Linked DNA regions of Homo sapiens. The gene in region 1 interacts genetically with each later gene. Each region holds a gene or a part of one and is shown on either strand. Other genes may lie near its edges. The genes, in order: UPF3A and FUS.

The links.
Region 2: of UPF3A (region 1) and FUS, extra expression of one rescues a mutant of the other (dosage rescue), as found in Homo sapiens cells (one study listed by BioGRID).

What each region holds. Positions count from the first base shown.
Region 1 is NC_000013.11:114,287,702-114,303,083, forward strand, and holds part of UPF3A (regulator of nonsense transcripts 3A), read left to right. Parts: exon of another isoform or gene 1-85; intron 86-3,787; coding exon 3,788-3,843; intron 3,844-3,899; coding exon of another isoform or gene 3,900-3,932; coding exon 3,933-4,091; intron 4,092-4,097; exon of another isoform or gene 4,098-4,883; intron 4,884-4,969; exon of another isoform or gene 4,970-6,020; intron 6,021-7,649; coding exon of another isoform or gene 7,650-7,751; exon of another isoform or gene 7,752-8,407; intron 8,408-11,138; coding exon 11,139-11,299; intron 11,300-14,029; coding exon 14,030-14,324; exon of another isoform or gene 14,325-14,350; intron 14,351-15,382. UniProt on the Homo sapiens protein: Involved in nonsense-mediated decay (NMD) of mRNAs containing premature stop codons by associating with the nuclear exon junction complex (EJC) and serving as link between the EJC core and NMD machinery.
Region 2 is NC_000016.10:31,167,047-31,183,331, reverse strand, and holds the start of FUS (RNA-binding protein FUS), read right to left. Parts: upstream 3,194-16,285; 5' UTR 3,118-3,193; coding exon 3,105-3,117; intron 935-3,104; coding exon 910-934; intron 820-909; coding exon 668-819; intron 1-667. UniProt on the Homo sapiens protein: DNA/RNA-binding protein that plays a role in various cellular processes such as transcription regulation, RNA splicing, RNA transport, DNA repair and damage response. Binds to ssRNA containing the consensus sequence 5'-AGGUAA-3'.

The DNA.
Region 1 (15,382 bases):
TATTTTCATCTTCATGGTTGTAGAAAAGTTCAGGAATTTAGTAGATGTTGATTGAATTAATAAAAAAAGATTAATATTACTGAAATAGTCCGTTCACTTTCTTCATTTATCTAGTAATAAAGCTTTTTTTCCCCCCACTCTGTTGCCCAGGCTGGAGTGCGGTGGCACAATCTCGGCTCACTGCAACCTCTGCCTTCCCAGTTCAGGCCATTCTTCTGCCTCAGCCTCCTGAGTAGCTGGGATTACAGGCACCCGCCATCATGCCCAGCTAATTTTTATATTTTTGTGGAGATGGGTTTCACCATGTTGGCCAGGCTGGTCTTGAACTCCTGATCTCAGATGATCCGCCTGCCTCAGCCTCCCAAAGTACTGGGATTACAGGCGTGAGCCACCACACCTAGCCGTAATAAGGCTTTTGATCACTAAAGTAAACAAAATATGCTGAGGCTGCATGCTGCCTGGGCACTGACTCTGGGCCTCAGCATGGGGCCAAGTGGTAAGCAGGTTGCACAAGGCCTCTGCCTACCATCGGGATGACAGGTTGGAAGCAGGAGCAGGAATAGTCCAACCAGGGCACCTCAGTGTGTAATCACTGCCACTGATGTGACAAAGTGGAATATGGGAGGGAAAGAGGTTGGGAGACTCCCTCCAAGATAGTGGTGGAGCTGGAGCTGAGACTGGCTGCGGGAGGGAAAGAGGTCAGGAGATGAGCTGAGCCTGGCCGTGCTGAGCAGTGGAGGAAGGAAGCGCCAGGGGCAGGGCCGGCTGCTGTCGCTTTTCACTGCAGGCGCAGAGTGCAGGCTTGTGGGGTTGGCACACATGGGTGAGGGCAGCGTGGTTGGAGGTTCAGGGCACTGCAAGACATTTAGATTCATTCCAGGGCAACTGGAAGCCACTGGGGGAGTAGCATGGTCTGATTATTTGTCCCCGTCACTTTGGTGGTGTCACATGGGATAGACTGTGGATGCCAAGAGATGAGCGTGTGTTTTGGAGGTGGGCTGGACAGGACCGACAGACGGATAGGGTGTGGGAGGTAAGGGGACAGGAAGAATTAAGACTCCAGTGCTTGGCTTGAACAGATGGGTGGATTGTGGCACCATTATACACAAGGGAACATGAGGGTAGGACAGTATTGGGGGCAAAGTCGAGATTTCACTTAAGAACTTGATAAATTGAAGAAGAGCTAGAAGCAGCAAATTAGACGTTATTACAGGCCTCATCTCCCTGCCCCTCCCATTTCCATCTCACTTTGTTTTAAATGTCCCCTTGCAAAGGATCGGTCACTTTAGGGCTGTTTTGAGACATACCTTTTTGGGGCAGACACGTGGCTCCTGCCGGGGTGGGGAGAGGGGGGCATGTCCTGGCACCTCCCCGAGAGTCTGCTGCACAGCCAATGCTTCACAAAAGTTGGCTGAATGAATGAATGAATGTGGCTTAGAACCCACCATCCCTGATGGGAGCGATTAATTCATTCCAGGACTTGGCTGTAGAGTCTTCCTTGTTTCTGTGATTGCTGTTTCTATGTATGAAAAATTGAAACTTGGCCGGGTGCGGTGGCTCACACCTGTAATCCCAGCATTTTAGGAGGCTGAGGCGGGCAGATCATGAGGTCAAGAGATTGAGACCTTTCTGGCCAACATGGTGAAACCCCGTTTTTACTAAAAATACAAAAATTAGCTGGGCGTGGTAGCATGCGCCTGTAGTCCCAGCTACTTGGGAGGCTGAGGCAGGAGAATCGCTTGAACTCGGCAGGCGGAGGTTACAGTGAGCCAAGACCACGCCACTGCACTCCAGCCTGGCGACAAAGTAAGACTCCATCTCAAAAAAAAAAAAAAAAAAAATTTTAGGCAATTCATGGCAGATTACCTTTTTCTTTTCTAAGCTTTTGGCCTCCAGTGGATTCTTCTGCACAGGTCTGAGAAGCAAGTGTTAAATGGAAATACTAATAAGCTGTTTCTGGCAAGGACTCTGGAGTTGTTGAGTTAGTCTGGTGCATCGGCCTTTAGCATCGGCCTTTAGAGCAGACAGGCCTGGGTTCAGCTCTGAGACTTCTGTTTACTTGTGTTCTGTTGCATGGTTGTGCGTATTCTGTCTGATAAATAACATACTTTTATGATGTGTAGAACACTTTCTTATTCAGGGTCTAACGTACTTTGCCCGTGATCCCTGTGGGTGATAGGGCAGACATTTTATAGGAAGAGGAAGGTGGGCAAGCGGAGTCTGGGGTCAGCCTCCCCACACATCCAGGTGGTCTCGCCCGGCTCCTGGCTGACAAGTTCAGGCTTTCCACAGAGCAGAGCAGAACCCTGGCTGATTTGAGATAATTTGCCCATTACAAAGAGCTGACCATTTACCTGAGCCAGTGTGCTGTACTCACCCTGAGCCAGAGTTCATGGTCAGCCCAGGGACCCCTGGGGGAGTGTTCTCTGTGGCAACTGTGTCTGCCACGAAATGTGGCATTTGTACCTGCATCAGCTCTTCCCTACAACCACTGTGCCTGGGGCAGGGCTCCTGGGACAATCGGCTCTTCCCTACAACCACAGACTGTCCCTGGGGAAGGGCTTCTGGGACAGGTGCCATTTCATCTATGATGTCAGGGTGTCAGGGGTTCTCAGTTCCAAGTGATGGATCCCTGGCCAGGGCTTCTCCTATGATTCCTGATTCATTCCTGGTCCTCAGAATTCCAGAGATGATGTGTCAGTTTTCAGGTACATCCAGGGATTCTTCCCAGCCCTGTTTAGTCTGAGATCTTACAGACCCACAGAGTAGACCCCGTCTTCCCCCTTCCCATTTGTGTCCTTGTGTTGGTGGGATGTGGGGCCTGTCCATGTCAGCGCAAGTCCCTCTGAGGTGGGGCCTGTGGGGCCTCTAGCTTGCCTGGGCACCCACATCCAGGTCAGATCTGAGAGGTCGGGCATGAAAGCGAAGGACCAAGATAGAGTCTGTAGAAATGTTCATTCCCTAGTAGTTGGTGCCTTTTCTGCAATCAGCAGCGCCATATGGAGTCATTTTCTTTTTCTTTTCTTTTTTTTCTTTTTTTTTTTTTTTTGAGGCAGAGTTTCGCTGTTGTTGCCCAGGCTGGAGTGCAGTGGCGCAATCTCGGCTCACTGCAACCTCCTCCTCCCGTGTTCAAGTAGTTTTCCTGCCTCAGCCTCCCGAGTAGCTGGGATTATAGGCGCGTGCCATCACGCCCGGCTAATTTTGTATTTTTTCAGTAGAGACGGGGTTTCCTTAGGTTGGTCAGGCTGGTCTCGAATTCCCAATCTAAGGTGATCTGCCCGCCTTGGCCTCCCAAAGTGCTGAGATTACATGTGTGAGCCACCACGCCCGGCCCATGTGGAGTCATTTTCTAAACTACAATCCAGAGTTGTATGTCTTATCATTGGGATTTTATGGAGTATATATTGTAAGACATTACAAGAATCCATGTTATTTTAAAACTGTTGCTTGGAGAACGGAAAACGAAAAAGTTCTCAGAATATGCGATGTATCAAAATAAATATATGTTATTTAATGATTTAAGGCACCTACAAAAATATCATCTTGGAATATTTTAAGCCTCCCTTAAGAATCAGGAATTAGATGTCTACTATGTATGAAATTGTTGATACTTTCAAATTACTTGACCTGACAGTAATGGAATAAAAACTCCCCTGGAGACAGTGTGTAAATTTAAAAAGTAATGATATGGTTCCCGTATTTATTTTAAAGATTACATTCAAAACAAGTATTTAAAATACATCTTTCTTTAGGAGTTAAATACAATATTACAATTTTTGTGTTTTAGCTAGAAGAACCACACCTCTTTTGGAATATATTAAAAATAGAAAATTAGAAAAGCAGGTAGGTCTGGCCTTTACCTGATGAACACCCTCCCTGCTTCTGCCATTCTCATCCAGGCAGTTTATACACACGCTCTTCCATGTCTTTAGAGAATTCGAGAAGAGAAGCGAGAAGAACGGAGGAGGAGAGAGTTAGAAAAGAAACGTTTGCGGGAAGAGGAAAAAAGAAGAAGAAGAGAAGAAGAAAGATGCAAAAAAAAAGAGACAGATAAACAGAAGAAAATTGCAGAGAAAGAAGTAAGGATTAAGGTAATTCTGAGGAAACATTTCCTTTTTCCAAAAATAGCTCTGCTATAGTAATTACACTTTTTACATATCTTAGTTCTTTAGAATTTTGAAAACATTCTGAATTAATCTAATATTGTGTTGTTATTTTTTTCCATCTTTTCCATCTTTCTTTCCATCCTACAGCAGTGGTTATCACAGTGCGTCCTGAGCCCTGGGAGTCCTCAGGCTGCTGTTGGGTGCCTGTCCTCCTGGGTGTGCAGTGGGGAGCACACCCCACAGGAGCCCCACGCTGGCACACGTTGGGCTGCTGCTGACGCTCTTTTTTTTTTTTTTTTTTTTAAACTTTCCAACTTTCATTTTCGGCTCAAGGCGTACATGTGCAGGTGTGTTACATGTTCATTGTCAGCTCAACGCGTACACGTGCAGGTGTGTTACGTGTTCATTTTCGACTCAAGGCGTACACGTGCAGATGTGTCACATGTTCATTTTCAGCTCAAGGCGTACACGTGCAGGTGTGTTACGTGTTCATTTTCGACTCAAGGCGTACACGTGCAGATGTGTCACATGTTCATTTTCGGCTCAAGGCGTACACGTGCAGGTGTGTTACGTGTTCATTTTCGGCTCAAGGCTTACACGTGCAGGTGTGCCACATGTTCATTTTCGGTTCAAGGCGTACACGTGCAGGTGTGTTACGTGTTCATTTTCGGCTCAAGGCGTACACGTGCAGGTGTGCCACATGTTTATTTTCGGTTCAAGGCGTACACGTGCAGGTGTGTTACGTGTTCATTTTCGGCTCAAGGCGTACACGTGCAGGTGTGTTACGTGTTCATTTTCGGTTCAAGGCGTACACGTGCAGGTGTGTTACGTGTTCATTTTCGGCTCAAGGCGTACACGTGCAGGTGTGTCACATGGGTAAATCAAGTGTCACTGGGGTTTGGTGTGCAGATAATTTTGTTGCCCAGGTAATCAGCACAGTACCTGATGTTTTTCAGTCTTCACCCTCCTCCCATTCTCCACCCTCTACATTTTCCTTTAAAAAAAAGTTTTCCTCCCAGCACTTTGGGAGGCTGAGGCGGGCAGATCACGAGGTCAGGAGTTCGAGATCACCCTGACTAACATGGTGAAACCCTGTCTCTACTAAAAATACAAAAATTAGCCAGGTGTGGTGGCGGACGCCTTAATCCCAGCTACTCAGGAGGCTGAGGCAGGAGAATCGCTTGAACCCAGGGAGCAGAGGTTGCAGTGAGCCGAGATCGCGCCATTGCACTCCAGCCTGGGCGACAGAGCAAGACTCCCTCTCAAAAAAAAAAAAAAAAAAAAAAAATTTCCTGGCCGGGTGGGGTGGCTGACACCTATAATCTCAGCACTTTGGGAGACCGAGGCAGGCGGATTACTTGAGTTCAGGAGTTTGAGACCAGCTTGGCCAATATGGGGAAACCCCATCTCTACTAAAAACACAAAAATGAGCCGGACGTGGTGGCGTGTGCCTGGAATCCCAGCTACTCAGGAGGCTGAGGCAGGAGAATCACTTGAACCCAGGAGGCGGAGGTTGCAGCGAGCCGGGATCGCGCCACTGCACTCCAGCCTGGGCAACAGAGCAAGACTCTGTCTTAAAAAAAAAAAAGTTTCCCTGATTAAAAAATACACATTTGAAAACCACTGGTTTTGCCTTTCTGTGTGAAGGCTGACTCAGAACCGGGTTTTATCATTTCTTTGGCAGTAGCACTAATGAGTTTCTGTATTTCTTGCTGAGTTTTTTCTGTGACTGATACATTCATTTATGAGGGTGGTTTAATACATAGAGGGAATTTTTCTCTGTGTGAAATGTGTTGGCCAGAATTGGGACCAGCCATTATCTCCTCAGTACTAAACCTAGATTTGAACCTAAGGTATCACTCATTACTTATTATTTATTGAATACCTTATATTCAATAATATTGTACAATATGAGGAAAAAAATGAAATGTCAGGACTTGGGGAAAGAAGATAGCTTAGGAAAGGGTGGGGAAGAGATCATTGAACCATAGATTTGTTTCTGATATGGTCAGCAGTCAAAAACAGAAAAGTTGGCTGGGTATGATGGCTCATTCCTATAATCTCAGGACTTTGGGAGACCAGGGCAGGTGGATTGCTCTAGCCCAGGAGGTCAAGACCAGCCTGGGCAACAGAGAGAGACCCTGTTTCTGTTTTTTGTAGAGATGGGGTTCCCACTATATTGCCCAGGCTGGTCTCGTACTCTTGGACTCAAGTGATCTTCCTGCCTCACCCTCCCAAAGTTTGGGGATTACAGGCGTGAGCCACCATGCCTGGCCTGGTTTAGCTTTTAATAAGTATCTGTGCTCAGTATGGGGGTCTTTCACTTCTAAATCATGTGGAAAATTGAAATTCTTTTAATGCCTGAAAAATGGAATCTGTGGAGAAATGCAAAAGAAGGTGTATCAACAGCTTAAAGAAAGACAGATGGCTCATGGCTATTTTGCTATTTTTTTGTTTGGTTTTGGTGGGGGGGGGGTTTGAGACAGGGTCTCAATGTGTCACCCAGGCTGGAGTGTAGTGGCACAGTCACAGCTCACTGCAGCCTCTACCTCCCAGGCTCAAGTGATCCTCCCGCCTCAGCCTCCCATTACAGGGGTGCAACATCATACCTGAATAGCTAATTTAAAAAAAAATTTGTAGAAGTGGGGGTCTCACTATGTTGTCCAGGCTGGTCTTGAACTCCTGGGCTGAAGTGATCCTCCCACTGCTGGGGTTAGAGGCATGAGCCACCGTGCGTAGCACTCATGGCTATTCTTAATAAAGAGAAATATGGTTTGGGAGGCCGAGGCGGGCGTATCACGAGGTCAGGAGATCGAGACCATCCTGGCTAACACAGTGAAACCCCATGTCTACTAAAAATACAAAAAAATAGCTGGGCGTGGTGGCACACGCCTGTAGTCCCAGCTACTCAGGAGGCTGAGGCAGGAGAATCGCTTGAACCTGGGAGGCAGAGGTTGCAGTGAGCTGAGATCACGCCACTGCACTCCAGCCTGGGCGACAGAGCGAGACTCCGTCTCAAAAAGGCTGGACCGCGGTGGCTCACACCTGTAATCCTGGCACTTTGGGAGGCCGAGGTGGGCGGATCATTAGGTCAGGAGATCGAGACCATCCTGGCTAACACGGTGAAACCCTATCTCTACTAAAAATACAAAAAATTAGCTGGGCGTGGTGGCGGGAGCCTGTAGTCCCAGCTACTTGGAAGGCTGAGGCAGGAGAATGGCATGAACCCGGGAGGCGGAGCTTGCAGTGAGCCAAGATTGCGCCACTGCACTCCAGCCTGGGCGACAGAGCAAGACTCCGTCTCAAAAAAAAAAAAAAAAAGAAAAGAAATACGGCACACAGAACAGCTCAGCTGTTTAATGTTCCTCTGAGGATGCTAAGCAGTGAGCTTATGTGTGGCCACATGGGTGAACACACACAGGCGAGGGCTGGGAGGGAGCACAGCTGCCCATGCGCTCCGCTTGGCCTCCGGAAGCCTTGCAGGGCGTGGCAGAGCTGGCCTGCTCCCCAGCTCGTCTCCAGCAGCTCTGGCCTGCTCCCCAGCTCGTCTCCAGCGGCTCTGGCGTGCTCCCCAGCTCGTCTCCAGCGGCTCTGGCGTGCTCCCCAGCTCGTCTCCAGCGGCTCTGGCCTGCTGGTTTCTCATGAATGCACCAGCGGATTCCACCTCAGGACTCCGCACGTTTCCCTCCACAGGGACTTCCCCAGATGTGCCCGTGGCTCCTTCTTGGCATCTGGTCTTAGTTCCCGTCTTGGCTCTGCAGAGAGCCCTCCTGGGCCCTCCTCTTCCTGCGTCTCTGATGCTTTACTCTCCCTTCATGTCTGTTCGTAGCTTTTGATGCTACCTGAGGTTATCTTATTCCTTTGTTTCCTTTTTCATATTTTTGCCACTGTTCACAGCATTCCCCCTTGACCACCGTTGCCTCAGGTGGTGCATCAGGCGCAAGTTCCTTCGAGGCAGGGGCACCTCTTGTCTCATTCACAGCCATTCCCTAGTGCCTAGCACAGGGTCTTAGGCCCTGGTTCCTGCACACAGCTCCTCAGACCTCGGGAATCTGCAGTAATATGAGTGTCTTATATGCCAATGAGAGGACTAGGGGCTGGGGGCCCCAGGCAGCTTCAGGATGGGGACTAGTTGGCCAGAAAGCCAAGGCAGGACTAGAGGGTTGGGACTTTCAGTCCCACCCTAGCCTCCGAGAGGGCAGAGGGCCTAGAGAGAGGTCACCGGTGGCCAGTGACTTAATCAGTCACACCTACATAATGAAACCTTAATAATGCCTAAAGACAGGGCTTCCAGGGGCCAGGCACAGTGGCTCACGCCTGTAATCCCAGCTCTTTGGGGGGCCAAGGCAGGTGGATCCCGAGGTCAGGAGTTTGAGACCAGCCTGGCTAATATGGTGAAACCCCGTCTCTACTAAAAATACAAAAATTAGCCAGGCATGGTGGCGCATGCCTGTAGTCCCAGTTACTCAGGAGGCTGAGGCAGAAGAATCGCTTGAACCCAGGAGGCGAAGGTACAGTGAGCCGAGATCGCGTCACTGCAGTCTAGCTTGGGTGACAGAGCAAGACTCCATCTCAAAAAAAATAAAAAAAATAGACGGGCCTTCCGGGTTGGTGAGCACATCAAGGTGCTGGGAGGGTTACTGCATGGAAGCTCCAAGTACCACTACACCATACCCCATACCCACCTTGTGCATTTTTTCCGTTTGGCTGTTCTGGGTTGTATCCTTTATGATTAGCCAATAATCGAGAAAACAGTGCCTTTCTGAGTTCTGTGAGCCATTTCAGCAACTTACCAAATCTGAGGAGAGGCCATCGGGAACCCCTGAATTTATTGCTGACTGGTCAGAAGTACCGGTGACACACTGGGACTTGGAACTGTCGTCTGAAAGGGGGGCAGTCTTGTGGGACTGAGCCCTTGACCCGTGGGTTCTGGTGCTAACTCCAGGTCGATGATCTCAGAGTTGAGTTGAATGTGGAGCACGCAGCTGGTGTCGGAGGGGTGGTATTGAAAAAGACGTGCAGTGTCAGAAATGTAAGAACAGTTCCTAGGCACACAGAATATTTGTTGAATGGGTGGATGGAGATTTGCACTTCCTATGGTTCACATTTATTACAGACATGTTACTGTTGCAATTTTTATAAAAGATGGGCAGTTACCAGAAAGGAAATGTTTAAGTTCCCAGATTCCACATAGGCAGAATAAGAGGATGTTCACAGCTGACATGGGGCCCACGCTTGATGAGAAGCGGCTTCCAATGCTCCACCTTGCATGATGCGTTGTGTTCCCAAGTGAACACGTGTGATTGAATGCATCTGTGTATGGTCTTGCTATGCTGCAATTATGAGTGAGAACAGAATTCTCAGATGTACACCTTCCATTTCTGTTCTACAAATGATCTGTCTGTGGTGCTTCCGTTTTTTTTTTTTTTCTCCCTTTTCTCAAGTTAGCTGAGGTGCTTTAGTTTCAAAAACTATACAGAGAGCAGGGAGAAAGGCCAGGGGCATACAGGGCAGATGAAATATGTCGTGGCGACTTGTTCATTAATTCTGTTTCAGGAAAGAGAATAATCAGTGTTTTGAAAACTATAAACTATTCTAAAAATCATCAGTAGGAAGCAGCCTTTTAAAAATTTTTTTTTCCTTATTACAAAACTAATACTTGTCTATGTCAGGAAAACTAGACCCTATAGATGAAAGGAAATAAAGTCATTTCAGTTCTGCCATCTAGAAATAATCACTATTGGCCGGGCATGGTGGCTCATGCCTGTAATCCCAGCACTTTGGGAGGCCAACGCTGGGGGATCACAGGTCAGGAGTTCAAGACCAGCCTGGCCAACATGATGAAATCCCATCTCTACTAAAAATACAAAAATTAGCCAGGCACGGTGGCAGGAGCCTGTAATCCCAGCTACTTGAGAGGCTGAGGCAGGAGAATTGCTTGAACCAGGGTGGCAGAGGTTGCAGTTAGCTGAGATCAAGCCACTGCACCCCAGCCTGGGTGACAGAGTGAGACGTCGTCTCAAAAAAAACAACAAACAAAAACTACAAAAGTTAGCCAGGTGTGGTGGCACGCCCCTGTAGTCCTGGCTATTCAGGAGGCTGAGGCAGTAGAGTCGCTTGAACCCAGGAGACGGAGGTTGCAGTGAGCCGAGACTGCACCACTGCACTCCAACCTGGACGACAGAGCGAGACTCCATCTCAAAAAAGGAAATAATCACTATTAATACAGTGCTGCAGAGCCCTTTAGGTGGTGGTGTGTGTGTGAACATAAATAGAAGTGGGGGCTGGGCACGGTGGCTCACGCCCATAATCCCAGCACTTTGGGAGGCCAGGGTGGGTGGATTGCCTGAGGTCAGGGGTTTGAGATCAGCCTGGCCGACATACTGAAACCCCGTCTCTACTAAAAATACAAAAAATTAGCTGAGCGTGGTGGTGGGCGCCTGTAATCCCAGCTACTTGGGAGGCTGAGACAGGAGAATCACTTGAACCCGGGAGGAGGAGGTTGCAGTGAGCCAAGATCGTGCCATTGCACTCCAGCCTGGGCAACAAGAGTGAAACTCCATCTCAAAAAAAAAAAAAAAAATTAGACGGGTATGGTGGCGCATGCCTGTCGTCCCAGCTACTCAGGAGGTGGAGGCAGGAGAATCACTTGAACCTTGGAGGCGGAGGCTGCAGTGAGCCGGGAGTGCGCCACGGCACTTCAGCCTGGGCGACAGAGCGAGACTCTGTCTCAAAAGAGAAAAGTGTAAGTGAGATTGTGGTGCATGTTCTGTTTTTTAGCCCTTTATTCATTACGTGAACATCTTTGCATCACATTAACCTACCTTACTTTTCATGACTAAAAAATATTTCATTCACTGAATGTTCCACCACGTATTAAACCAAAAACCTCATTTTTGGACCTTTAGCTTTAATTCTTTGCTGTGCAAACATTTGGCTTCAATATTGGGGTATATTTGTAATTATTTATTTAACAGCTTCTTTTAAAATATGCTCTCAAGGTGATACTTTACTAACATTGTAATTTCTCAGCTTCTTAAGAAACCAGAAAAGGGAGAGGAACCAACCACAGAGAAACCAAAAGAAAGAGGAGAGGAGATTGATACTGGAGGTGGCAAGCAGGAATCCTGTGCCCCCGGTGCAGTCGTAAAAGCCAGGCCCATGGAAGGCTCGCTGGAGGAGCCCCAGGAGACGTGAGCGTGCTTTCATTGTTATGACCACGTCAGCTCCCAGTCATGGTGACGTAGGCTTTGTCAGTATGAGTATGCCTATTTCACACTGTTCTTGGAATCCAAGACTTTCCAGGGTGTGCGAGTACACGTTAGCCTTCATTTCCCATCAGCATGGCAGGAACGTAGTGAACTCGTCTTGTCTGCAGTCTCAAGTCTGTCTTCAGATCGGGAGTTTCTTCCTGTTGTTTGCTTTGCTTTTGCCTCCATGTCCTCCTTTTACTCCTGAGCCGCCTCCTGGATTCCTGCTGTTGCATGTCAGGTCTTCAGGATCTGTCTTCCCAGTCTTTCTTTTTGTTTTTTGTTTTTTATTTTTCTCTGTGTTTGTGATATCTTGCCCTTTGCTCTTTTATCCCCCTTGCAATTTATCTACAGAATTGCATATTTGGGAACCCCCTCTTTTAGGTCTGGCAGATCTTTTGTGATAGAGAAACAGAATTTTAAGTGCTGTGATCCTTTGGTTGAAGCTGTCCCTGGCTCCTCTGGCTGTGGATCTTGACCAGCAGCTTTGGCTGTGCACTGTGGGTCCTCCCTTTTTCTTTTCCTTTGCTGCATATGACAGTGCAGCTCTATGGAGGGAGCTCATCTGCGAAAGGGACAGACACAGCATTATCTGCCCGGTGGGCCAGAGAGACCAGCCAGATGCCAGTCAGGAGGGATCCTGTCCCTCTTGCTCCTGGCATCCACCATCCTCAGGGCCCCAGGCACCTGGGCTTACCTTCCCCTCCGGGACTCCTGCCCACTCACTGCCTCTCGCCACCCACAGTCTCCTGGTGCCCAGGGCCACTTGGCCCACAGGGGATGATGGACGTGGATTTTAGGTGGGAAGACTAATGCGATTAGGCTGCCGGCTTCCCAGAGCCATAGTCGTAGGTGTGATTTCTCACTGCCTTTCGTTCAGAGTTGATGAAGTATTTTTTCTACTTCTTGGGAGTTTTGGTTTATTGCTTTGTTTATAAAATTTATATATGATTATCAAATCCATGATTGTGAAGCACTGTGATGATGTTACCGGTGTTGTTACTGTGACAGTTGATGACACAGCAGGACCTACTGCCACGTGTCTGCTGTGAATTCATACTTGGTTACAGATCCTTATGGTCCCCAACAGCCCTGGCAAATGAGCGAAGCAGCCATTTATTTACTATTCATTTAATATTCTGATAAATGCATAAAGATAATTAATCTGCCATTATTAAATGTCAGTTAATTTTACTCTGCACATCATGATGGATGTGCACCTGGGCTCCCAGGACAGCCACTGGACCACTTTAGTCTCAGTCATTTTATCTGTAGAAAAGAAGGTTTATTTTATTTTGTTTTATTATTTTATTTTATTTTAATTTTATTTTTGAGACAAAGTCTCGCCCTGTCGCCCAGGCTGGAGTGCAGTGGCACGATCTCGGCTCACTGCAACCTCCGCCTCCCAGGTTTAAGCAATTCTGCTTCAGCCTCCCAAGTAGCTGGGATTACAGGCACCCGCCACCATGCCTGGCTAATTTTTGTTTTTTTTTTGTTTTTTTGAAACGGAGTTTTCCTCTTGCCCAGGTTGGAGTGCAATGGTGCGATCTCAGCTCACCACAACCTCTGCCTCCTGGGTTCGTGCAATTCTCCTGCCTCAGCCTCCTGAGTAGCTGGAATTACAGGCATGCCCCTCCATGCCTGGCTAATTTTGTATTTTAAGTAGAGACAGGGTTTCTCCATGTTGGTCAGGCTGGTCTCGAACTCCTGATTTTAGGAGATCTGCCTGCCTTGGTCTCCCAAAGTGCTGGGATTACAGGTGTGAGCCGCTGTGCCTGGCCTAATTTTTGTATTTGTAGTAGAGACAGGATTTCATCATGTTGGCCAGGCTGCTCTCAATCTCCTGACCTCAAATGATCTGCCTGCCCCTGGCGTCCCAGAGTGCTGGGATTACAGGCACATGCCACCACACCTGGCTAATTTTTGTATTTTCAGTAGAGAGGGGGCTTCACCATGTTGACCAGGCTGGTCTCCAACTCCTGGCCTCAGGTGATCCCACCCACCTTGGCGTCCCAAAGTGCTGGGATTTACAGGCGTGAGACACCATGCCTGGTCAAAAGAAGGTATTTACTTTGGAGGGTTATTGAGAATTAGAAAATATGTATAAAAAGTACCTTAGCATGGCCAGGCACGGTGGCTCACACCTGTAATCCCAGCACTTTGGGAGGCCAAGATGGGCATATCATAAGGTCAGGAGATCGAGACCATCCTAACTAACACAGTGAAACCCCGTCTCTACTAAAAATACACAAAAAATTAGCCGGGCGTGGTCGCGGGCACCTGTAGTCCCAGCTACTCGGGAGGCTGAGGCAGGAGGATGGTGTGAACCCAGGAGGCGGAGCTTTCAGTGAGCTGAGATCCCGCCATTTTACTCCAGCCTGGGCAACAGAGCGAGACTCCATCTCAGAAAAAAAAAAAAAAAGTACCTTAGTATAAGGCATATTGCCTATCTGTCACTCAACTGAAATGACAGATACTATTACTATGATTTATTCCTCTTTGTAGTGGTTTTTATCAACGCCTGCTGTGTGCCCATCGCAGTGCAGCCTCAGCAGTGCAGCGCTGAGCACTTCGCATGGGTCCCTGTTGTCTGGGAACCTGTGGTCTAGAAAGGAGGGTGGGCAGCCAACCGGCGGTTTACTGCAGTTGCTGATCATTTGTGTTGAATCATAGGTCACACAGCGGCAGTGATAAAGAGCACAGGGATGTGGAGAGATCTCAAGAACAAGAATCTGAAGCACAAAGATACCATGTGGATGACGGCAGGAGGCACAGAGCTCACCACGAGCCTGAACGGCTTTCCAGAAGGAGTGAGGATGAGCAGAGATGGGGGAAAGGACCTGGCCAAGACAGAGGGAAGAAGGGGAGCCAGGACAGCGGGGCTCCGGGGGAGGCCATGGAGAGACTGGGAAGAGCGCAGAGGTGTGACGACAGTCCAGCACCCAGAAAAGAGCGACTGGCAAACAAGGTTTTTATTAAACCCAAAAAGAAAAATGTGTCTGGCTGTCTTAAGGTCCAGGCTGCATGCTGACCATGTCACCCCCACTTGGCCTTGTGTCTTGGGGAACGCAGTGCTTTGAGCATTTTCAAGAGCAGTTTTTCCTGAAAGTCAGATCCCAGAGTGAGACTAGTCATCATCTTTTCTCAGATAATCAAATTATTTTTCACCAGGAAAAAGAAAGATTTTATTTAGTATAAAACTAGCACGTTTATATGATTCACTTGAGAATAAGATTATTAAATTTACCCTTGAGACAGGAAGGAAAGTTTTAATGATATTTCATGGAGGTTTCTTCCACATTATTAACAACATTCTGATTATTGGTGAATATTCCCATGGCTCACAAACACCTGTAAGTTAGATCTGCACGGACGGTGAGCACAGGACTGTGGTTACCCCCTTAGCCAAGCAAACAACTTTTTTTTTTCAGGAGCTAATTTTTGTTCAGGTTGCATTTTCCCAGCGCAGCACTACAGATGGCATCACCTTTCTGACAGCACCAGGCCCCACCCTGGCCTCCTAGCAAACTGAGGGCTGCCTAGGGTTCCAGTTCCCACTCACCTCCCTCCCCATGTCTAACCCCTGGCAGCCACTGTCTGTTCTCTGCCTCTGTGATTTTGTCATTTCAAGAATGCTTGATAAATGGAAACACACAGTATGTGAGCTTTGAGAGTGGCTTTCTTCACTCAGTCTAATTCCTTTCAGATCCTTCCAGGTTGTTGTGTGTATGAACGATGTTCACTTTGAAACTGTTTCAGTGTAGCTGGGCATGGTGGCTCACACCTATAATCCCAGCACTTTGGGAGGCTGAGGCGGGTGGATCACCTGAGGTCAGGAGTTCGAGACCAGCCTGGCCAACATGGCGAAACCCTGTCTCTACTAAAAATACAAAAAATAGCTGGGCGTGGTGGCGCGCCTGTAATCCCAGCTACTCAGGAGGCTGAGGCAGGAGAATTGCTTGAACCTGGGAGGCGGAGGTTGCAGTGAGCCAAGATGATGCCATTGCACTCCAGCCTAGGCAAGAA
Region 2 (16,285 bases), on another chromosome or scaffold:
TGGAAACAGAATCACAAACCAATAAACATTTTTGTTTTTTGTTTTTTTTTTTATGTTTTTGAGATGGGGCCTCAACACACTGCCCAGGCTGGAATGCAGTGGCTGTTCACAGGCACCATCATAGCTCACTGCAGCCCCAAACTCCTGAATTCAAGGGATCCTCCCGCCTCAGCCTCCTCAGTAGCTGGGACTACAGGTGTGCCACAATGCCCTGTAAAGGACTCAGATCCCAAAAAGTTTTAAGACTTATACACTGTTTCACGGAAAAGAAATATGGAACAGTTTCAACATCTCAGTGCTGCTCAGGTTTAAGAAAAGCAACATTCAGGGCATTGTGGCTGACGCCTGTAATCCCAGCACTTTGGCAGGTCAAGGCAGGCAGGAGGTCAGGAGTTCCAGACCAGCCTGTCCAACACGGTGAAACCCCATCTCTACTAAAAACACAAAATTAGCCAGGCGTGGTAGCAGGTACCTGTAATCCCAGCTACTCAGGAGGCTGAGGCAGGAGAATCGTTTGAACCCGGTAGGCTGATGTTGCAGTGAGCTGAGACAGCACCACTGCACTCCAGCCTGGGCAACAGGACCAGACTCCGTCTCCAAAAAACAAGAAAAAGAAAAGCAATATTCAGAAAGAGTAGGAAGAGGTGACCCGCTGAGAAAGACTCACTGTTCTGGCTCTGGCCATAAGAAGAATAGCTGCTCTGGCCATAGCCTGAAGTGTCCGTGGACTGGCTATAACCACTGTAACTCTGCTGTCCGTAGGGCTGACTGCTCTGCTGGGAATAGCCCTGCCCGGGCTGGGTGGGGTAGGCCCCATAGCTAAATAAAAGGAAAACCAGCGTGATCAGAAAACATGGCGTGACCACCCTTGCCCTCTACAAACTCTGGAAGCCCAAAAATAGCACTCACCTTTGGGTTGCTTGTTGGGTATAATCTGCAAAAGAAAAATACAATCACATTATCTTCAGCTGCCACTCTGAAAGAGTTGAATTAAAGCTAAATTCCTTAACTCAAGCACTGATGAATAAAAAGGACCACGTAGGCCAGGCACGGTGGATCATGCCTGTAATCCCAGCAGTTTGGGAGGCCGAGGTGGGTGGATCACTTGAGGTCAGGAATTCGAGACTGGCCTGACCAACATGGTGAAGCCCCATCTCTAATAAAAATACAAAAAATTAGCCGGGCATGGTGGCGCACGCCTGTAATCCCAGCTACTCGGGAGGTGAAGCAGGAGAATCGCTTGAACCCGGGAGGCAGAGGTTGCAGTGAGCCATTGCACTCCAGCCTGGCAACAGAGCAAGACTCCATCTCAAAAAAAAAAATAAAAATAGGACCATGTTGCAACAAAGGGCATAAAATTCCTCCATGAGACACTGGTTGAGAAGAGGAACAAACTGGCGTTATCAGCCAAGTGTTCTTACAATAAAGAAAAAGTGAAGAAAATGCAAGTTTCTACAGAGTCCCAGAAGCCTTAACCATTGGAAAAACCAAGGTCTTGGTGGACATCCACAATTTTCTGCAAGCCCAATTCATGTCAGTGATTGCTCTAAAACATCGCGCATTCGTTTCATCCACTCTATGAGAAAGCCATTATCGCCAGGAGTCAAGAGACTAACTCTCCCAACGTCGCAGAACTACCAAAGTGGCACAGGTTTGAATTCGAACAGTGTTCAGATTGTGGCCTCTGCTCTCTCAGCCCAGACCCACAGAATAAGAAAGTCTCAAAAAAGGCCATTCTTCACTCTTTGACCAATCCCGGAGATGAAGTGGGCTTTTTAGTGCAAAGCCAGAGAATCAAAAGAGCCCTTGGACCCCAAATGACAGAGATCATGCAACTGCTCGCCTTAGGAGGCGAAAGTCAACAGGTACTCGAGTCCCCAGCCCTGGGACTCCAGATGGTTCCGTTTTCTCACCTACCCTGCCTTCCCCCAGCGAACAAAAAGCAACAAAAGCGCTTTTGAAAAGCCCCACTTAAGATACACGAACAAGATCAACTCATCCTCCCAGCACAGGAAACGCGGCGCTTCCCCCGCAGGAAAAGGGAAAGAGGACCAGGAGAGGGTGTGGCCTCGGGCGGCCGTTCTTCTCCGTCCCTATCTCAGAAAAAAGAAATTTAGACCAGGCGTGGTTGGCTTACGTCTGTAATCCCGACACTTCGGGAGGCCCAGGCGGGCGGATCACCTGAGGTCAGCAGTTCGAGACCAGCCTGACCAACATGGTGAAACCCCGCCCCTACTAAGAAACACAAAAATTAGCCGGGCTGTGGTGGCGGGCGCCTATAATCCCAACTACTCAGGAGGCTGAGGCAGAAGAATCACTTGAACCCAGGAGGTGGACGTTGCAGTGATCTGAGATCGCACCACTGCACTCCAGCCTGGGCGACAGAGGAAGACCGTGTCTCCAAAAAAAAAAAGAAAGAAATTTAGGCGGGAAAAACTCTCGGGCCGTCCCCAAGTCCGTTGGTCGAACCCTGACCACCGCCGCCAAACCGTTAAGCTAGAGGGCGGCCCCGATCCCGAGCCTCCGCCCCCAGCCGCGTGGCAACCCAGGCGGGAACGGAGCGATCCCGCCCATTCGCGAAGGACCACTGAGGGACAAGGCTCACACCGGACGCGCGCCGCCGAGTCTTCCGCGAAGGGTCTCGCGACAGAAAGCTGAACCAACACGAGGCGGGGAAGGGGTACCCGCGCCGCGAAGGGGGAGGGGCCCGCAGAGCGCGTGCGCGCCGCGAGTGCCCGGATGCAGCACTGCGACAAAGCGGGCTCGAGCGCGGGGCCGGGAGTTGGGGGAGGCGAGGCCACGGAGAATGGGCGTTTTCCACCCTCACCTGACGCTTCAAACCCCTAAGAAGCGTCCCTCCCAACGCCCACCCCAAGCAAACGGACTGCAAAGAAAAGACTTCCCGCCCCGCGCGCGAGGGCCAGAGGAGCGAAACAAAATGGCGACACCAGCCTCCTCCAGTTACTCTTCTCCGCGGCTTCCCGCCACAGGGGCGCCAAAAAATCCCACACGGGATCGCCGCCCCGGTCCCACTGAAAACGAAAAGCCCAGCTGGGAGGCCTCGGCCGGGTGCGCCGCCGCCGTCGCCTCGCGCCCTTACCTACCGTTTGAGGCCATGTCCGCGCACGCGCGCACAGGCAAGCAAGCAACGAAGTTCCAACACCGCTGAGTACCGACGCCTGGAGGACTGAGCAGCCCCGCCTCCTGCGTCGAAGCTTAAGTACGCTCCGCCGCCTACGCACCGCGCAGGCGCGCACCAAACGCGGAAGAGCAGGGGGAGGCAGGAACGCACTCCGCCCCCTTCGTAGGGCAGGTAGAGGGTCCGAGCAGGCAGAAGGGAAACAAGTTAACTAGAATCATGCGAATACTATACATAATCATATTTTTTGAGGAAGAACCCCTCTCTCCTCGGCAGGACTAGCCCACGATCTATCTCCACCCCCATGAAGGCACAGTGGTACGGCCTGAGTGCCCGCTGGGGGCGGGGCGAGGGGGCGGTCCCGGCGGCTGGGGACGAAACTGGAGTCACAGCCGGGAGTAGCGGGGTGGAACCGAGATTCCTGTGGCCGGGCCCCTTCGCTGGGCCCCGCTTTCACCCAGGATGGCGAGCTCCTGCCCTCCACCCTCTTGCCGCTGTATGGGGCGCCTCGTCCCCGCGGCTCCAGCCTCCCTCGTCGGCAGCACACTGGCCCTCCCTCTCCTGCGCCCTGAGGTTGACTTCGTCGTCTTTCAGGGTTGCCTTGCCTTTCGGCCTTTCTGGGGTTCGGGGATTATGACGTTTGACCTGAAAGACAGCAGGGATTTCGGCCGGGACCCCTGGGCCCCGGGCTCGTCCAGCACTGGGCTCTCACCCGGATCCTCATGGCTTTGCCCCTGGGGAGCCACGGGGCGGAACAGCCCAGGCCATCCTTGGGACCAGAGAGGGTTGACCTCAGATGTACGGTACCCAGCCTTTTCTCAGGGACCTCCTTTTTATTTTTCTGAAGCCCTACCAGGGCGATCCCAGAAATAAAACGTGTACAAGGCTTAAGTGGTTTCAAAATGCACAGATAATTTCCTTGTCATCAGTCTTACGAAGGAAGTAAAGATACCTCCGTTTTCTAGATAAGGAAAGTGAGACTCAGAGACCCAAGTAATTGTGCCTGATTACAGGGCAGCTAAGAGGAGTCGTGATTCGAATCCAGGTCTTGTAACTGCAAAACACTCCTCTTTTTGGTGGCATGAATGCTAGAGTGTTTGGTCGCCTTTTCACTTCCTGTGAGAGCAAAAGCAAAAAGAAACATTCAAATTAACTTGCAACTTGCACTTTCATCAGCCTTGCCTGGAGAAGGCAATTTGAAACTACTGAATAAAACAAGACAAAAGACGTTAATTCCTGATACATAGGCATGCAGGTTTTCCTTCCCAACTTAACCTTTCAGCGGGATTTCAGAAGGTCCTTTGAGGGTTGGACACGTCTTTCTAGAGAAACAATGAGGGCCATGCCCTGGGCCCGCCCACAAATTAAGCCCCACTAAGCCCTTGACTTCAGCCCTAAAGGCCCTGAATATGCCAATATCCACCCCACCGCCTTTGGAAGGAGAGTTCAACTCTCCAGTGAGAGCAAAAGAAAGGAAGTCCACCCTTATTCATGCATTAAGTCACAAATATTTATTTAGCACCTAGTATGTTCCAGGCACTGTTCTGGGCACTGGGTATGCATTCGTGTACAAAGCAGATGAAGTTAACATTTAATAATAAAGCTGACCGGGTGCGGTGGCTCACGCCTGTAATACCAGCACTTTGGGAGGCCGAGGCGTGTGGATCACGAGGTCAGGAGTTCGAGACCAGCCTGGCCAACATGGTGAAACCCCGTCTCTACTAAAAATACAAAAATTAGCCAGGCGTCGTCCGCGCATCTGTAATCCCAGCTACTCAGGAAGCTGAGATGGGAGAATCGCTTGAACCCAGGAGGCGGAAGTTGCAGTGAGCCAAGACGTGCCACTGCACTCCAGCCTGGGCAACAGAGCAAGACTGTCTCAAAACAAATAATAATAATAAAGCTGACATTTAATAATGATATACATTGTGCTCATCTATAATATGTAATAGCTAACACTTTAACAAGACTTACTGTCAGGCCCTGTTCTGACTGAGTAAACTCTTGATTTTATTTTTCACAACAAAAGGCTGATGTGAGGATGACATTTTATCTTTTTTTTTTTTGGGGGGACACTGTCTCACTCTGTCACCCAGGCTGGAGTGCAGGGGCGCCGTCTCGGCTCACTGCAACATGTGCCTCCCGCGTTCAAGTGATTCTACAACTTCAACCTCCCAAGTAGCTGGGAGTACAGGTGTGCGCCACCACACCCAGCTAATGTTTGTATTCTTAGTAGAGACGGGGTTTCACCATGTTGGCCAGGCTGGTCTCGAACTCCTGGCCTCAGATGATCCATCTGCCTTGGCCTCCCAAATTGCTGGAATTACAGGTGTGAGCCACCACGCCCTGCTAAGGATGACATTTTACAGATGAGGAAATAAGCATAGAAAGACAGGCAGTTGACCGGGCACGGTGGCTCACGCCTGTAATCCCAGCACTTTGGGAGGCCAAGGAGGGCAGATCACAACGTCAGGAGTTCGAGACCAGCCTGACCAACATGGTGAAACCCCGTCTCTACTAAAAATACAAACATTAGCCAGGCATAGTGGCGCGCACCTGTAGTCCCAGCTACTCAGGAGGCTGAGGCAGGAGAATTGCTTGAACCCCGGAGGCAGAGGTTGCAGTGAGCCGAGATCGCGCCACTGCACTGCAGCCTGGATGATAGAGTAGAGCAAGACTCTGTCTCTAAAAAAAAAGAAAGACGGAAAGTTATGCTGAAGCTACACAGGAAGTGGCAAAGCTGGGTTCCCAAGCCAGGTAGCCTGCTCTTAACCCCTGCGCTTCAGCAAACATTGCCTGAGCACTGCATAGTATGTTCCAATCATGGGGCCGACTGGATGGATATGGATAAAAAAAAGCTCAGTTCCTAAACCACAGGACCAGCCAGTGGGTGAATGTGGGTGAGACACACAGACCACAAAGTGTACTTGAGTGTAGTAAGTGCCATCACATGGAATCAAAGACTGGAAACCCTGCCAGCAGAGTAAGTCATCCATCAGGTGGACAACCACAGAACACTAAAGAGAGATGGTAACCCTGAAGCCAAGGCTTACTGGATAAGTAGAAGTTTGCCAAGCAGCAAGGGAGGAAAGGCTATAATAGGCAGAACCGCGAAGACAAAGGCACAAGTGGGGAAGACACTGAGGCAGAGTTCAGGCTCCAGCTGTGACTCTGGGCTGGGCATGGTGGCAGATGAGACTCGGCCTCAAAAAAAAAAAAATATGTGACTCTGAAAGACTAAATCAAATGGCCATTTCTTTCTTTCTTTTTTTTTTTTTTTTGAGATGGAGTCTCACTCTGTCACCCAGGCTGGAGTGCAGTGACGTGATCTCAGCTCACTGCAACCTCTGCCTCCCGGGTTCAAGCAATTCTTGTGCTGCAGCCTCCCGAGTAGCTGAGATTACAGGCATGCATCACCATGTCCAGCTAATTTTCCTATTTTTAGTAGAGACGGGGTTTCACCATATTGCCCAGGCTGTTCTCGAACTCCTGATCTCAAGTGATCCACCTGCCTCGAATGTTTTAATTTTTTTAACTAGTTGCCAACACTAAAAATAGTGGGCCATTCCAGGCCCACTTCCATAGGGCAAGGGTCAGCTGGAGTGAGACACTGTCACCTTTAGCTGCCATATGTGCTTTAAGTTCACCATAAATGTCTTATTTACTTCCTATCTCTGACAGGAAAGTCAATGTTAAATTTTTCTTTTTTGAGACAGGGTCTTGCTATGTTGCCCAGGCTGGTCTTGAACTCCTAGGCTCAAGGGAATCCTCCCAAAGTGCTGTGATTAAAGGTGTGACCACCACACCCAGTTTCAATTAACATGTATATCAGATATTGGGCCAGATGCGTTCGCTCACACCTGTAATCCCAGCACTTTGGGAGGCTGAGGTGGGCAGATCATGAGGTCAGGAGTTCGAGACCAGCCTGACCGACCTGGTGAAACCCCATCTCTACTAGAGATACAGAAATTGGCCGGGCATGGTGGCGCGCATCTGTAGTCCCAGCTACTCGGGAGGTTGAGGCAGGAGAATTGCTTGAGCCAGGGAGGCAGAGGTTGCGGTGAGCAGAGATTGTGCCATTGCACTCCAGCCTGGGCGACAGAGCAAGACTCCATCTCAATAAAAAAATAAACACGTATATCAGATATTGATTTTTTTTTGAGACAGAGTCTCACTCTGTCACCCAGGCTGGAGAGCAGTGCTGCAATCTCAGCTGACTGCAACCTCTACTTCCCAGGTTCCAGCAATTCTCCTGCCTCAGCCTCCTGAGTACCTGGGATTACAGATGTGCACCACCACACCCAACTAATTTTTTTAGTAGAGATGAGGTTTCCCTATGTTGGCCAGGCTGGTCTCGAACTCCTGACCTCAAATGATCTGCCTGCCTTGCTTTCCCAAGTGCTGGGATTAGAGGCATGAGCCACTGCACCCAGCTCAGATATCCAGATATTTATTTAGTTAGTTAGTTTTAATTTATTTATTTAATTTTTTTGTTTGTTTTTTTGAGACAGAGTCTCCCTCTGTCACCCAGGCTGGAGTGCAGTGGCACAATCTCAGCTCACTGCAACCTCCGCCTCCGGAGTTTGCAGTTCTCTGCCTCAGCCTCCCGAGTATCTGGGATTACAAGCTCCCACCATTACGCCTGGCTAATTTTTTGTATTTTTAGTAGAAACAGGGTTTCACCATCTTGGCCAGGCTGGTCTTGAATTCCTGACCTCCTGATCCACGCGCCTCGGCCTCCCAAAGTGCTGGGATTACAGGTCTGTGCCATCGTGCCAGGAAGTTACATATATATATATATTTATTTATATTTATATATATTTGTTTGAGATGGAGTCTCGCACTGTTGCCTGGGCTGGAGTGCAATGGCGCGATCTCGGCTCACTGCAATATCTGCCTCCCAGGTTCAAGCGATTCTCCTGCCTCAGCCTCCAAGTAGCTGGGATTACAGGCACCCGCCACCACGCCTGGCTAATTTTTTGTATTTTTTTTTAGTAGAGACGGGGTTTCACTATGTTGGCCAGGCTGGTCTCAAACACCTGACCTCGTGATCCACCCCTCCTCGGCCTCCCAAAGTGCTGTTACAAGCATGAGCCACTGCGCCCAGCCCCAGAATTTATTTTTTAAAGACAAGGTCTCATTTTGTTGGCCAGTTTTGTCTTGAACCCCTGGCCTCAAGCAATCTTCCTGCCTCGGCCTCCCAAAGTGCTAGAGTTACAGTTACAGGCATGAGCCACTGCGCCTGGCCTAGATCAAATATTTAATGCAATTTTTCTTTTTCTTTTCTTTTTTTTTTGAGCAGGGAGAGGTTGGTTTTCACATTTCTAGTGGGAGCCATGGGAGGGTCCTCCTTTGGCAGTGGAGGTGCTCACAATTTCTTCAGCCACTCCAAACTGGGGCCTTGGGGGTCCTGGGGGTGGCTGGGCACATCGGGCATGTTCCCATCATTGCAGACAGGCACTGGGTAGTTGTAGGGCCTTGCCTCGTTGATCATGATGGAGTACTTGGTGTGGGGACTAAGTGGGGGTAGAATTACAGTGAGGCTCCGGATGACAGAGGACAAGACCAGCACTGGCTCCTTGGCCCAGGAAATCTTGAGGAAGGTGCTGAGTCTCGTGGCCTTCTTGGTCTCGGTGGTGATGACAGCGGCCTTTTTTTTTTTTTTTGAGATTGAGTCTTGCTCTGTCACCCAGGCTGGAGTGCAGTGGCGCGATCTCGGCTCACTGCAACCTCCGCCTCCCAGGTTCAAGCAATTCTCCTGCCTCAGGCTCCCGAGTAGCTGGGATTATAGGCACGTGCCCCTACGCCCAACTAATTTTTGTACGTTTAGTAGAGATGGGGTTTCACCATGTTGGCCAGGCTGATCTCGAACTCCTGACCTCATGATCTGCCTGCCTTGGCCTCCCAAGCGCTGGGATTACAGGCGTGAGCCACCATGCCTGGCCTCCTTTTTTTTTTCTTTTGAGTTAGGATCTCAATCTGTCACCCAGGCTGGAGTGCAGTGGTGCAATCAAAGCTCACTGCAGCCTCAAATTCCTGGGTTCAAGCAATCCTCCAAATTTGGCCTTACCAGCATCTGGGACTACAGGCCTGCACCACCATGCCCAGCCTCTATTTGGGTTTTTGTTTTTTTTTTTTTTTTGAGACGTAGTCTCGCTCTATCACCCAGGCTGGAGTGCAGTGGCACGATCTCGGCTCACTGCAAGCTACGCCTCCCGGGTTCAAGCGATTCTCCTGCCTCAGCCTCCAGAGTAGCTGGGACTACAGGCGCCCGCCACCACGCTTAGCTAATTTTTTTGTATTTTTATTTTTAGTAGAGATAGGGTTTCACCATGTTTGTCAGGATGGTCCCAATGTCCTGACCTCGTGATCCACCCGCCTCAGCCTCCCAAATTGCTGGGATTACAGGCGTGAGCCACTGTGCCCGGCCTCTATTTGGGTTTCTAAAAAAGAAAGAGGGCCAGGCTCAGTGGTTCATTCCTGTAATGCCAGCACTTTGGGAGGCCGAGGCAGGAGGATCATTTAATAACATAGTGAGACCCTGTCTCTACAAAAAAATTAAAAATGATCTGGGTTTGGTGGTGTGTGACTGTGGTCCCAGCTACTTGGGAGGCTGAGTCTGGGGCAGGGGGGTGGGGTACTATCCAAGAGGTCAAGGCTGCAGTGAGCTATGACTGTGCCACTGTACTCCAGCCTGAACAGCAGAGTGAGACCCTGTCACAAAAAAAAAAAAGAAAAAAGAAAAAGAGAAGGAGAACAGTTAGGGATATATATATATATGTGTTTACTTATGCATAAAATATCTCTGGAAGAAGAAAAACAAGTCATAGCCTATTTCTGAGGAAGGAATCTGGGGAACTTGGGGTCAAGGATTGAAGGAAATTCACTTTTCCTAGATCCTTTTATATTTTAATTTTTCACTATGTGCATATAATGACCAATTTAAAAGCAAACTGACTCCTACAATGCACCACAGCATGGTAGCTGAGGAGGGTATTATACAGGGTAAGACCTGCCACAGGGGAAGAGTGATTACTTTTGCAGTGAGTAGGGTGGGTCAGCCTTCACTGAGGAGTTGACTTTTTTTTTTTTTGAGATGGAGCCTCGCTCTGTCGCCCAGGCTGGACTGCAGTAGTGCAATCTCGGCTCACTGCAAGCTCCGCCTCCCAGGTTCACGCCATTCTCCTGCCTCAGCCTCCCAAGTAGCTGGGACTACAGGCGCCCACCACCATGCCCGGCTAATTTTTTTTTTGTATTTTAAGTAGAGACGGGGTTTCACTGTGTTAGCCAGGATGGTCTCGATCTCCTGACCTTGTGATCCACCCGCCTCAGCCTCCCAAAGTGCTGGGACTCAGGCGTAACCCACCGCACCCAGCTATTTTTTTTTTTTTTTGAGATAGGGTCTCGCCCTGTCGCCCAGGCTGGAGTACAGTGGTACAATCTCTGCTCACTGCAGCCTCAATCTCTTGGGTTCAAAAGATCATCCCGTCTCAGCCTCCCCAGCAGCATACACCACCACGCCCCAGCATTTTTGTTTTTTGTAGAGACTGGGTCTCATCACATTGCCTGTGGCCGGCAAGCCACCCAGGCGCCAAGGCAAGAGACCGAGGACATGAGCTGTTCCAGTATAAAAAAATATAAGACAAGAATAGTTATACCAGATATAGATCTTAGATATGATTATATATGAATATCATTAATCATTAGTTTGTAGCAATTACTCATTATTCCAATATTATAATAATCCTCGCTGTATAATCATAACCTAGGAGAAACCAGGCCATACAGAGATAGGAGCTGAGGGGACACAGTGAGAAGTGACCAGAAGACAAGAGTGCGAGCCTTCTGTTATGCCCAGACAGGGCCACCAGAAGGGCTCCTTGGTCTAGCGGTGACCCCAGCGTCTGGGAAGACGCCCATTGCCAAGTGGACCGTGGTCTAGCAGTAGCGAAAAGTGTCAAGGAACAACACCCGCTGCTTAGCAGACCGGGAAAAAGAGTCTCCTTTTCTCTGGGGGAGTTTAGAGAAGACTCTGCGCCTCCACCTCCTGTGGAGGGCCTGACATCAGTCAGGCTCGCCCGCAGTTATCCGGAGGCCTAACCATCTACCTGTGATGCTGTGCTTCAGTGGTCATGCTCCTAGTCTGCCTTCATGTTCCATCCTGTACACCTGGCTCTGCCTTCTAGATAGCAGTAGTAAATTAGTGAAAGTACTAAAAGTCTCTGATATGCAGAAATAATGGTGTAAGCTGTCTTTCTCTTTGTCTTCTCTCTCTCTCTGCCTCGGCTGCCAGGCAGGGAAGGAAGGGCCCCCTTTCCAGTGGACACAAGACCTTACCTATCATTGGAGATGACTCACACTCTTTACCCTGCCCCTTTTGCTTTGTATCCAATAAATAACAGCACAGCTAGACATTCGGGGCCACTACCGGTCTCCACGCATTCGTCGTAGTGGTCCGCCGGGCCCAGCTGTCTTTTCTTCTATCTCTTAGTCTTGTGTCTTTTATTTCTACACTCTCTGGTCACCGCACACAGGGAGAAGCCCACCGACCCTGTGGGGCTGGTCCCTACAATTGCCCAGGCTGGTCTTAAACTCCTGGGCTCAAGCAATCCTCCTGCCTCAACCTCCCAAAGTGCTGGTATTACAGGCATGAGCAACTGTGCCCAGCGAGGAGTTGACATTTCAACTGAACGAATGAAGCATTTCTCAGTACAAAAACTGTACGAACAGAAGAGAGCAAGCTTGACCCAGAGCCTGTCCTGGCCAGGCACTTTAGCTGGGTTCTTGTATGTATTTATATTTTAGAGACAGGACCTCGTTCTGTTGCCCAGGCTTCTTGAGTGCAATGGTGCAATCATAGCTCACTCTAACCTCGAACTCCTGGCCTCAAGCAGTTCTCCCACCTCAGCCTCCCAAAGCGCTGGGACCACAGACGTGTGCCACTGCCCTAGCTGGGTCCCTGTAGAAGGGCAAGGGAGGAAGAGCAGGCGTGTAGAAGGGCAAGGGAGGAAGAGCAGGCAAGGCCCTCCCCTCAGGAGCACTCTGGCCTGGGGAACAGCGTGGAGGGATGGTGAGAGATGGCTGGGGCCAGACCCAGGCCCCACCTCTAGCCTGCTGCACATCTTTGTGCAAATTAGGAAAAGGCATCCCTTCCTCCAGGCAGAAACCCACCCCCCGCCCAACTCTGCCCCCCAAGGCCGAAGACTTGGGGAGGAGAGCAGGAGCTGAATTTTACTCAGCCCCATTTCAGCTCTGAACAGAGGATTTCATGCAGGACGAAACGGTCACATTCCTAAGCAGAGGCACTGAGGTATGAGACAACCTGCTATTTCACATCACTCAAAACAACAGGCTTGGGATTGCTCACACCTCTAATCACAGCAATTTGGGAGGCAAAAGCATGTGGATTTCTTGAGTCCAAGAGTTCAAGACCCCAGGCTGGTCTTGAACATGGCGAAACCAGTCTCTACAAAAAATACAAAAATTCGCCAGGCTTGGTGGTACACGCCTGTGGTCCCAGCTACTCAGGAGGCTGAGGTAGGAGGATCTCTTAAGCCCTGGAGGCAGAGGTTGCAATGAGTGGAGATTGCACCACTGCACTCCAGCCTGGGAGACAGAGCAAGAACTGTCTCAAAAAAAGCAACTTCTACTGGGAATATTAAATGACATTTCCATCTGCAAATACCCTTAACTGGGCCTAGAACATAGTAGGCATGAATAAATGACCTTTTCTCTCTCACTCGTCCTTCAAGATGTACTGCTTCAAGCAAGAAATAATTGCTTTATTATCTCCTTGGGCAGTGCCCAGGACAGGAAGTGCCCCTGTCTGCATGGGGCCCACTCAGATTTTGTGTCTCTAGGAGAGGTTGTCATGGTACACAGACTGGGAAAGTAAATGCTGGGCAGATAATTGGCCTGTGCTAAGAAAAGACCTGCTTGGACCAACTAGAAAAGAGCAACACAGGACAATAGTGGAGGGAAGGTCAGCAGATAAACAAGTGAACAAAGGTCTCTGGTTTTCCTAGGCAGAGTGTTTGTGTCCCTGGGTACTTGAGATTAGGGAGTGGTGATGACTCTTAACGAGCATGCTGCCTTCAAGCATCTGTTTAACAAAGCACATCTTGCACCGCCCTTAATCCATTTAACCCTGAGTGGACACAGCACATGTTTCAGAGAGCACAGGGTTGGGGGTAAGGTCACAGATCAACAGGATCCCAAGGCAGAAGAATCTTTCTTAGTACAGAACAAAATGAAAAGTCTCCCATGTCTACTTCTTTCTACACAGACACAGCAACCATCCGATTTCTCAATCTTTTCCCCACCTTTCCCCCTTTTCTATTCCACAAAACCGCCACTGTCATCATGGCCCGTTCTCAACGAGCTGTTGGGTACACCTCCCAGACGGGGTGGTGGCCGGGCAGAGGGGCTCCTCACTTCCCAGTAGGGGCGGCCGGGCAGAGGTGCCCCTCACCTCCCGGACGGGGCGGCTGGCCGGGCGGGGGACTGACCCCCCCCACCTCCCTCCCGGACGGGGCGGCTGGCCGGGCGGGGGGCTGACCCCCACCTCCCTCCCGGACGGGGTGGCTGCCGGGCGGAGACGCTCCTCACTTCCCAGACGGGGTGGCAGCCGGGCGGAGGGGCTCCTCACTTCTCAGACGGGGCGGTTGCCTGGCGGAGGGTCTCCTCACTTCTCAGAAGGGGCGGCCGGGCAGAGACGCTCCTCACCTCCCAGACGGGGCGGCGGGGCAGAGGCGCTCCCCACATCTCAGACGATGGGCGGCCAGGCAGAGACGCTCCTCACTTCCTAGATGGGATGGCGGCGGGGAAGAGGCGCTCCTCACTTCCTAGGTGGGATGGCGGCCTGCCAAATCCCCCTCTGTGAGAAACACCCAAGAATGATCAATAAAAAAAAAAAAAAGCAAAAACAAAGAAGGAAGAAGCCATTTGTACCTTAGTATGAACTTAAAAACGAGGTTAAACACTAAAAAAAAAAAAAAAAAAAAATGAAAAGGGCAACACAGTGCTGGGTCTGAGGGAAAACTGCAGAAAGTCCTCCTGGAGGCAGGAAAAGGGCCTGGGGCAAGGTATGCAATAGTCACAGTGATAGATGGGAAATTGACCAATCATTGTGCCAGGTCTATTTCCAAACAGGTTAAAGGTCCCAGGGAAACAAATTGAGCGTCCTGGTACCTGGTTTGCAAAAATGCAGTGTGGCCAGGCACAGTGGCTGACACCTGTCATCCCAGAGCTTTGGGAGGCTGAAATGGTGGGGGATATCACTTGAGCCCAGGAGGTCAAGGCTGTAGTGAGCTATGATTGAACCACTGTACTCCAACCTGGGCCACAGAACAAAACTGTTTCTCAAAGACAAAAACAAAAGTGTGCCAGGCGCTGTGGCTCATGCCTGTAATCCCAGCACTTTAGGAGGCCAAGGCAGGCGGATCACCTGAGGTCAGGAGTTCGAGACCAGCCTGACTAACATGGTGAACTCCTGTCTCTACTAAAAATACAAAAATTAGCCGGGCGTAGTGGCGTGTGCCTGTAGTCCCAGCTACTCAGGAGGCTGAGGTGGGAGAATCGCTTGAACCCGGGAGGCAGAGGTTGCAGTGAACCGAGATGGCGCCACTGCACTCCAGCCTAGGCAACAGAGACACTGTCTCAAACAAACAAACCAAAAGTGTAACTTAGGCCGGGCATGGTGGCTCACGCTGTATTCCCAGCACTTTGGCATGCCGAGGCAAGCAGATCACCTGAGGTCAGGAGTTTGAGACCAGCCTGGCCAACATAGCAAAATCCTGTCTCTACTAAAAATACAAAATGTTAGCTGGGCATGGTGGCAGGCGCCTGTGATCCCAGCTACTCGGGGGGCTGAGTCAGGAGAATCGCTTGAACCCGGGAGGCGGAAGTTGCAGTGAGCCTAGATCGCGCCATTGCACTCCAGCTTGGGCAAAAAGAGTGAAATTCTGTCTCAAAAAAAAAAGTGTAAAGTAAAAGGATCTGTTAACAATTCCATATCATTTGCCTTTTTCAAGGACTCTGGGCTACAGATTCTCTAGCTCTAAATAGGAAAAGGGAGAAGAGTGAGAGAGGGTATCAGTACAGGGGCTTCTGAACAAATACGCAAAAGAACGAAGAAACTTCTTTATGCTTAAGGCCAAGCTCAGTGGCTCACACCTGTAATCCCAGCACTCTGGGAGGCCAAGGTTGGAAGATCACTTGAGCCCAGGAGTTCGAGATCAGCCTGGGCAACATAGCCAGACCCAGTTTCTACAAAAACTTTAAAAAATTAGGCCGGGCGTGGTGGCTCACGCCTGTAATCCCATCACTTTGGAAGGCCGAGGCGGGAGGATCACCTGAGGTCGGGAGTTGGAGACCAGCCTAACCAACATGGAGAAACCCCGTCTCTATTAAAAAAAATACAAAATTTACCAGTCATGGGGGCCCATGCCTGTAATCCCAGCTACTTGGGTGACTGAGGCAGGGGAATCACTTGAACCCAGGAGGCAGAGGTTGCGGTGAGCCAAGATCGCGCCATTGCACTCCAGCCTGGACAATAAGACTGAAACTCCGTCTCAAAAAAAAAAAAAAAATTAGCCAGGCATGGTGGTACATGCCGGTAGTCCCAGCTACTGGGGAGGCTGAGGAGGGAGGATCATTTAAGCCCAGGAGTTCAAGGCTGCAGTGAGTCGTGATTGCGCCACTTCAGCCTGGGCGACAGAGAGAGACTCTGTTTCAAAGAAAAAAAAAAGAAGAAGAAACTTGTTTATGTTTGACCCTGCAAGGTGATTTAAACCCTAATATGCCAAATATGTATGTATACTTTTTTTCAGATTAATTTGCAAATATTTCCAGGAAGATACATGTAAAACTACTGAGAAGAGTTCTTTCTCTGTGGGACAGCTAAAAAAAAATTACACACATTTGGCCAGGCGCAGTGGCTCACACCTGTAATCCCAGCACTTTTGGAGGCTGAGGCAGGCGGATCACAAGGTCAGGAGTTCGAGACTAGCCTGGCCAACATGGTGAAACCCCATCTCTACTAAAAATACAAAAATTAGCCAGGCATGGTGGTGGATGCCTGTAATCCCAGCTACTCAGGAGGCTGAGGCAGGAGAACCACTTGAACATGGGAGGTGGAGGTTGCAG